Linked DNA regions of Homo sapiens: all the other regions are linked to region 3. Evidence: fine-mapped expression QTL. A gene starts in region 3. Each other region holds a variant in brackets. All regions are shown on one strand. Distances are from middle to middle. Region 1 holds the start of PRKCH-AS2 (PRKCH antisense RNA 2). Region 2 overlaps LINC03033 (long intergenic non-protein coding RNA 3033). Region 3 holds the start of LINC03033 (long intergenic non-protein coding RNA 3033).

Evidence for each region.
Region 1: its variant is fine-mapped to the expression of LINC03033 in blood mononuclear cells (TOPMed, PIP above 0.99). The same link has a PIP of 0.9 or more in whole blood.
Region 2: its variant is fine-mapped to the expression of LINC03033 in whole blood (TOPMed, PIP 0.96).

What each region holds. Positions count from the first base shown.
Region 1 is chr14:61,543,602-61,546,363 of GRCh38, forward strand. The region is part of intron 12 of PRKCH (protein kinase C eta); the gene reads left to right. It overlaps PRKCH-AS2 (PRKCH antisense RNA 2), which reads right to left and starts at 1,883. Exons shown (of 3, transcript NR_188139.1): 1 at 1,493-1,883. The variant G/GC (reference allele first, on the strand shown) is at 1,514.
Region 2 is chr14:61,652,492-61,655,253 of GRCh38, forward strand. It overlaps LINC03033 (long intergenic non-protein coding RNA 3033), which reads left to right. Exons shown (of 3, transcript NR_039985.1): 3 at 1,132-2,222. Among named protein-coding and RNA genes, the nearest start is that of HIF1A, 42 kb to the right of the region's middle. The variant GA/G (reference allele first, on the strand shown) is at 1,445.
Region 3 is chr14:61,569,362-61,572,123 of GRCh38, forward strand. It overlaps LINC03033 (long intergenic non-protein coding RNA 3033), which reads left to right and starts at 1,179. Exons shown (of 3, transcript NR_039985.1): 1 at 1,179-1,399. It overlaps LINC01303 (long intergenic non-protein coding RNA 1303), which reads right to left and starts at 1,292. Exons shown (of 5, transcript NR_110416.1): 1 at 1,125-1,292; 2 at 183-316. RefSeq lists a silencer at 277-469.

The DNA of each region.
Region 1 (2,762 bases), 26 kb before region 3:
TTTGGCCGACTTTCCCTCTTGGATCACAGTCAGGGAGAAAGTCAGCTGAGGTGAGGCAACTTTTCAGTGTGACCTTAAATGTGGATGAAAGTGATGGCCCCGAGGAGCACAATTGTTAACTTACTGGCATTTGGGTCCCATTAGGGACATAAGCAAATAATGAAAGTTTTCTGCAAAAGGATTATGCTGTCACCATTCACAGCAGTAGGAACAGAGAGTTTAGGGAAAGGCCTGTGCCCAGCCTAGGATGGCAAGCTATCCACCTCCAACTCCACACCATCTGCACCAACGTGAACTGTGAAAGATTTCAGGCCTGGGACTAATGTTAAATGTTCCCTTAACTCCTCATCTCCACATCACTGGACGGGGGTAGTGGTAGAAGGGCCACCCCACCACCACCACAACACACAAAGCTTCTACCCCCTTAGTATCACCCCGGACCCTCCTTCTCCCGGTCCTGGTTTCTGTTTCATGGTATTCATCCTCCTCTGGCCTCTTCATGGCATCCTCCAGCTGCCACTCTGGCTGCTTCTCACCCTACACCAGGGGTCAGGAGCCATGAAAGTCCGTGAGTGATACCAGCCAGGTGGGAGGTGATAGGGAGTGGTGGGGCATGTGACTGACTGGGCATCTGGTGCCCCATGAAAAGCAGAAGCCCCTGCTCAACTCCAGGCCGTTTCTATGAGAGGAGTGCAGGCCCAGTGTTCCCGAGTATCTCATTTTCCACGAGAAGTTGGAAAACCTGACTTTTCATGTGATGTGACATTTCCTAGCGTTTAAATATTTGAGAAGTAATTAAAATTATTTCAAAACACACTAGGTAGGCCAAATAAAATGTGTCTGAGACCTAGGGCTGGTATCAGTTCTAGTCTGTCTCTGTCACTTTCCACAATCTAACCTGCCCTCCCAGCTTCAGTGGTTACTCAAATTTCAATGTCTCTGAGCGTTAGATGGCCAGCCCTGGCCTGCACCCCAGATTTACCCTAGAATTCATCTGCATGTGGGTGCCCACACACCTCCAATGCAAAGCGGAGCCCATCAGCCTCCCAGATTTGGCAGACTGTAGGATCTCAGTAAGTGTGAGCTATTTTTGTCTTTGTTCCACTAACAAAAATACTACTACTACTAACACTGCTACTAATACTCATGCTACAAAGAATAATCTCTTGCCCCTCTTTTGTTCCATTTCTGTTACTCAACACCACTGCCCCATCAGGCAGCCAGGGAGGACCCTGTGATCTTGGACTCTTCACTCCCATTCCCGGCAGTTAGTGGATTGTGTTTATTCTTCCACGGCCCTCTAGAATGTGCTTCCAACTCTTCCTTCCAATTAACTAGAAACTCTCCTAGTTGCTGAACTTGTCATGTGTTCTCAGCTATTGTCTCAGCCTCTAACTGCTCACCACCAGGCGCTACCTCTGCATTTAAGATTTATTCATCACGCTGTGGCTAGTGTCATCCCCTAAATTGCCGTGCAGCTCTCATCACTCACCTCGGATGGATCCCACCGGCT[G/GC]CCCCCGCAGTTCCTCAGCCATCCCTGCATGCCAGCTGTACCAGGCACTTGTATGCCTCTGCATTTGTGCTGGCTGTGTCCTCAGGCGCATTTTCTTCCTTCATGCCTACTATGTTAATTCTGTTCGTCCTCATCTCTGGTCAAATGCCACCTCTTCCACGAGGCTGTCACTTGCCTTCCCACCACCAGCCCCAGTGTTATTTGCCCCGTGCCTCTTCCAAGCTCTCACAGCACTTGATCTAAGTCTCTTTTCATTTCATCCGGCTGTGTATTATGAAGTTTGCTTGATTCTTCCCCCTTCTCTTGATTAGCTCCTGGATGAAGAGACACTGTCTTTGTCATCTGCGTATCCCCAAGAAACCCCTAGTGTGCTGCCTTACATGTAGTAGACACCTTGAAAACCTTTGTCAATTGAATCAAAGTTTGTTTGTGTGTGTGTGTGTTTTGTTTTTTCTTTTGGTTTGTTTTTTTTGTAAGTTGAGGATGGCTGCATCTAAAGGGCTCAGGCCAAGGTATTAAAAACAAAACTGCTTGGTTATTCAAAAGGATTTATCAGAACCCCAAGAGGCTAAGTATCAAGCTAGTGAAAGGGTTATTCTGCCTGTCCCCAATTCCAAGGGTGCAGTTTTTAGAGGACGGACGGTCGTGTTTGGTCTACTTGTCGTCAGGCAAGGCCTCTTCCACAGTGCCCCATGGAAGCTTGGGTTCAGTGCCAGGGGCAGGGAGGAATGGGCAAGCCTCTTGGACACTGGGGCTTCAGCCACCCTGGCATATAGAGTCCTGCACTGTTTGTCTTGCCCAGAAGAACAGGCTGTACCCACCCATTCACAAGATGTCCTCTCTCACATCATTGGCAGGCCTGGGAATTTCCCACAGGCCATCTGGGTGTGTTCTGCCGTCCTGTCTCCCAAGTTTTTTGCAGCATTGTTTCTTGTTAATTAGCTCTTAGAATAGCAACTGCTCTTCCATCAGGAATTGTATCCCGTTGACTTTCCTAAGGCAAGAATCTACTCATTTCTTTTTTGTAAGCATTTTCTCCCTTCCTGCCTGCATTGCACAGGCTTACTTAGTGAGAGCCCAAGCAGTGTGAACTAACTCCTAGCTCTTACAGAACTGAGTTACTTATAATATGCATCTCCTGAATCCTGGGTGACCACTGTAAGTGCCTGAAGTGGCAGCTGCTCTGACTGGGCCTGTGCAGCTCTGAATGCTGCATTTACTTTTGGGTCCTGCCTCCAACCCAGAACCA
Region 2 (2,762 bases), 83 kb after region 3:
TCAAACATAATATATTCCAAACAGATGTCCTGATATCCTCCAAACCTGCCCTTCCCACATTCTCCTCCTTCTTATTAAGCTTCTCAGATCTACTCCATCCTTCCAGTTGTGTAGCCCCCAAACTTTGGAATAACCCTAAACTTCTCTTTTTTTTTCTCATACAATGCATCTAATCCATTAACCAGACCTGTTGATTCTACCTTCAAAATATATCCAGAATTTACCCACTTCTTGCTGCTTAGACTGCCACCATCCTGGTCCAATCCACCTTCCTCTCTTGCCTGAATTATCTCAATAGCCTTCTAGATGCTTCTTCCCTGCCCCTCACTGCCCTGCCCCTTGCCTCTGCCCTTGCTGCCCCACAACCTATTTCCTACAAAGAGCGATCCCAGTAAACAATAATCCAAATTATGTCATTTGTCTGCTCCAGACCCTCCTGTTTTCCATCTCACTTAGATGAAAAGGCAATTCCAGGCTGTGAACTTCAAGACTCTGTATGATCTGACCTCACACTGGCTTTCAAACCTCATCTTGCACACTGCTTCCCCAGTGTGCTCTGCGTTAGCCGCATGGGGATTTTTATGGGTCCCTGGACACTCCGGGCATTTCCCTGGCTCAGGGCGTTTGCATTGGCTGTTTCTGCTTACTGGAGTTCTCTTTCCCTGCTATATACATGGTTTTCTCTCTCATTTCCTTCAGGTCTTTCTTTACTCAAATGACATCTTTTTTAAAAGAGGATTTCTATCTAAAATTTTATACACATATCTCTGTATCCCCCTTCTCAGCATTTTTTTTTCTCCTTGGCACTTATCACTCTCATGTGTGTGTTTGTTCATGTATTTATTGACTGAGTGATTTTTTTCTCTCCCAATAAGCTGCAAACTCTGTGAAGACAGGGATATTTTTCCCATTTTTGCCCCATCATGCTGCAAGCCCAAGGTACAATTAGAACACATCCAATTCACTGTCCATCTACCTGTGGCACTTCAACCATGACCACAAACCAAATCACTCTTCCTGTATCACATTCCCTGAGAGACTTTGTTTTCTCCCACAGGAAAGATTTGTTTATTTTTCTGATTCAATCAAATGTACCACTAGTTTCTGCAGGATTATTTGTACCTCTTTCAGGATCCTGAGGAATTTGCTCCTGGGCCATGAAGATGGGAAGCTGAGTCAGAGTGCAGTTCTTCACCCAATCCCACAGCCACACGTGCCTGCTTGCTCACGGGATCTTCCCACTCTCCTCGGGAAGGCTTCCGAGCTGCTTCCTCAGGATGTCCTGTGATAGCAGCCTGACCTGTCAAAGCCATGCGAATACCATCTGTTCAGTTATATAACTTGAGATCTGGGAAGAATTCTCAACGTAGGATTTGCTGCCCAAATCAAATCATTTTCAGAAAGGAGATTAAGCATTCTTTGCTGGGAAAAGGAGAAATTACCA[GA/G]AAAAATTATCATTTCACTGAGTATAAACAAACCTTTGTCCAAAATACACAAATGAAAATGACAAATTTGCTTCATTAATATTTGCTTGCATTAAAAATATACACAGGGCTATGTATGGTTCAATATCTTAAGTGCAAAGTAAAATCTTAATTAGGAACAATGGAATTGTTAATTTAATGAATCTTAATTTTGTTTAGATCATTAGCCTGCAGTATAATGTCCCAAGCAGAATTTGGGGTGGGGAGCTTGGTGGTGGAAGAGGAAGTGCTCATTTCTACAGACATGACAAGATTATTAACACTAAAGAATGACTTTTCTTTCATGGGAGGGGAAGATATCTGACCCACCAGCAGTCAGACAGAAACCCTGACTTGTGATTTTAACATTACCTTATATGACCCATGGTCACCTTGTATGACCAAAGAAAACCATTTATGAAATAGCTGTCCGGAGTTCAAGATTTAAATGGTAACTTTGTAGACTAGGTTTTCTCTCATCATCTAATTTACTTGCCTTAACGCTTGTTTCTTTGCCCTTATTCCTACTGGCTCTCGAGTATAATATCCTGAGAATTTATGTTGAACAGCACTAATTTTTTCACTTGGAGCTAGCACATGTTTATGACTAGTACAAGTTTATAACTACAAAAAACAGAGATTTTGTCATCTTAAACTGAATTTACTGGGAATAAAATCAGTCAATTCAGAAAAGTATAACAAAGGAAATAAAAATCACCACAACTCCTACTACCTGAAGATTAAATGGTTAAAGTGTTTTGTATATTCTTCTGTAATTTTTACACCTACATGTTTTTTAAATAAAAATTAACCCTACCTATAAACCAAACAATATTATTTAACTAACAGGAGAAGAATAAATTATATTTTTTGATTGGCTGTATAGCAAAGAGAATCCTGCCATTCAGAAAAAAACAGGGTAAGACAAGGAAGGAAGCCAAATAGATGGACTGCAATGGAAGTTCACCCAGAATGAATAAATGAATGAATGAATGAATGAATGAATGGAGGAGCTATTTTACTGACTGTGGTCAGTCAGGGAACACCTATCAGAAAAAGCAGCATTTGGCCGGGGGCAGTGGCTCATGCCTGTAATCCCAGCACTTTGGGAGGCTGAGGCAGGCGGATCACCTGAGGTCAGGAGTTCGAGACCAGCCTGACCAACATGGTGAAACCCCGTCTCTACTAAAAATACAAAAATTAGCCGGGTATGGTGGCAGGCACCTGTAATCCAGCTACACCAGAGGCTGAGGCAGGAGAATCGCTTGAACCCAGGAGGCAGAGGTTGCAGTAAGCTGA
Region 3 (2,762 bases):
CTAGGACAATCTGTTGAAACCTAGGGGCTCTTACCCTAGACAAATTAACACACCAGCCAGATACAGCTTACAAGGGCAGAGAGTTGCTGGTTTGAACCACAGACCCCTGGTTTAACATCTGTAATCTAGTCAACCCCTCCTCTTTCTTGAAGGCTGAACCAAACACGAAGGGTTTTCCCCACCTTCCAATCCTCATACATGCAGACACCCCCTTTTCCTGCTTTCTCCTTCAGTCATCTTCCTCACCATCCCCCATGCTTGGGCACTCTCAGGAGGGAAATTGTCCTATAAATATCTGTAAAAGGCATGGTATGTCCTGTAGCAGAGAAAGCAAAAAATAAAAATATAATTCCTCCACCCCTGGCATGGCACGTGCAGAGCTCTGCCTGATCCTTCTCTCCCACAAGCCTCGGGGGTGGGTAAACAAAAGTGAGAGGTGAAGCTGCTGCAGCGAAGTACCCCTTCAAAATCTTCAGTACCCTTCAGAGCCAGCGCTGTCATCACTATCACATAAACTGTACAACTCCAACGTCAACCAGCAGCCGCCTGGCTGGCAGCAGGAAGAGCCAATGCAATTTTGCACAGTGGCTTGCTTGCCCAAGGTATTGCCTGGCAAATGGGCTTCTTGTGCAATGGGGAACCACAGGGAGGGGCCTCTTAAATGTACCTCAAAGAAACAGCTCTAACAATGGATGATTCAACAGGCTAGTAATTGGCGCTCACTCTTACCACATTGTTTTGATAAAACGACATAGCCCAACTGGGGATATGAAGGCAGTAAGTAGAAAAGCTAACCTCTTGCTACTCAAATTGTGGCTGAGAACCAGCGACATCCCATCACCAGAAGCTTTATAGAAAAGCCAGGCTCTGTCCCAGACCTATTGAAAGGAGATCTGCATTTTAACATGATTGCGAGAGGATCCACATCTTAAAGTTTCAGAGGCCTAATCCAAAGTCTTCTGATAATGATCATTAGAGTCCCAGCCACCCCCGACTTCCCCCTGGGAAAACCACAACAAATAGAACAAATTCCTCCAAGCTCTGCTCATAAGAAGAACCCACAACCCACAGACACCCCCTCACTCAACTAGAGACCTCACCCACCTGTTTGCAGAGTCACCCACCTTGGGCTACTTCTTTTCTACTATTTAATCTTCTGGGAAAACAGAGGTCTTCTATTTGGAGATAAAAATGACAAAGGAGAACCTCCTGAACAGCATCCAGTTTGCTTTTAGCTTTAGCCATCTCTCTGACCTCAGTGCTGCTGGACTCAGTTCCAAGATCTAACTGTCAAATGCTTTAGGGGAAACGGGAAGAGAAGTCCCTGGAGTAACCCATGTGCGCAGCCTGGCACTGTTTTCACTTGCCTTTGGAAATGAAGGTGCAGAAACCATGGGAGGTAAGGAGGGCACAGACTAGTGACTTCCAGTGTGGGACAGAGGGGAAAAGATGGAAGAGAAGTGCAGAAAACCACTCGGGAAAAGACAGGCTGGAGTGATGCCTGCTGAGACAGGGCCCTGATCTCCCAGGACTTCCCTTTCTGCCTGTTCTGTAGAAATGTCTCGGGTTTTGTGGTTTAGGAAAAGAGATGCTTAGCAAGCTTGTAGAAAATGTAATGTGGGCACTTTGTTGCTGTCCTGGCTTTTAAAGGACTCTGAAGCAGATCAGCTTCAAGGTATTGGCTATTCTGTTTGCAGCCTTAGAAAGACATCCTTGATGTTTTATTGTTCTGCCTTTGCTAAGAGCTGGAAACTCTCCCTGGGGAAATGGCTCACCTTGAAAGAGATGCTATCGTAGCTGAAAATGTTTTAGCTTCACTTCCAATCTCTGGTTCCTTGTGGGAAGTAACTGCTGCTGTGGTATATATGCCCTGTGCCTTTTATTTTTACCATCTTTACCTCGGTGGACACAGCTGGTTGAAACTCAGTAAAACTTATGCTTCCATGGAGATTGATTCAGACAACAGGAAAAATAAGTGTAGAAAAAAACTGCACAGTACAAGGGCTAGATTCAGGTTGTAGAACAAAGTGATTATTACTTAGAATCCTGGATTAGCAAGAGAATAAGAAAGATGCTGAGATTACCTAGTGTTATCACCATCCACGTGAAACGTAGAATAAAACTTTTTCCCCACCACATAGATATTGGGCAGTTTATTATAGATGCTACAAAGGGATTTATTATATTTTTCCCAAAATGGTTAATTAGAGGCATCCCAAATTACAACTCCTTTAGCATAACTCCCAGCTCCATGCAGCCTACTTACTAAGGACCCAGCTACTGACAGCTCAGCTCTTTGCCAATCCAACTTTTTTTCCCCATATGCTCAAACTTTTCTTCTCCAAGAAGACTTCCTGAATGATCCCAATTCATAGGGATCTCATCCTTAATGCAGGGGAAATTCACTGTTCTGGAGTAGTCTACCATACCATCACGCTCTTCTTTTTGTGTAATCCTGGATTTCTTCTCCAGTTGTTTTATTCTTGCCTGTCTACACAGATAGATCAGTAGCCTTCAATAGTCTGCATCTCCTGTTATCTTGCAGCCTCCTACTATAAACAGTAGGTGCTTTACTTATGCCAGTTGGGTTGACCTAGACAGTAGTCTCTAAGTAGCAGTCCTTGGCTCATCCTTCTGAAACCAACGAGCTCTTAGGCAGGCTGAGAAAGGGTTAGGACTGTTCACTCTGGGACATCCTTGGCTCTGTATGAGTGTTGTTTTTAAAAGCAGGGATTTTGTCTCCAGTGCATTGAAGAGATAAA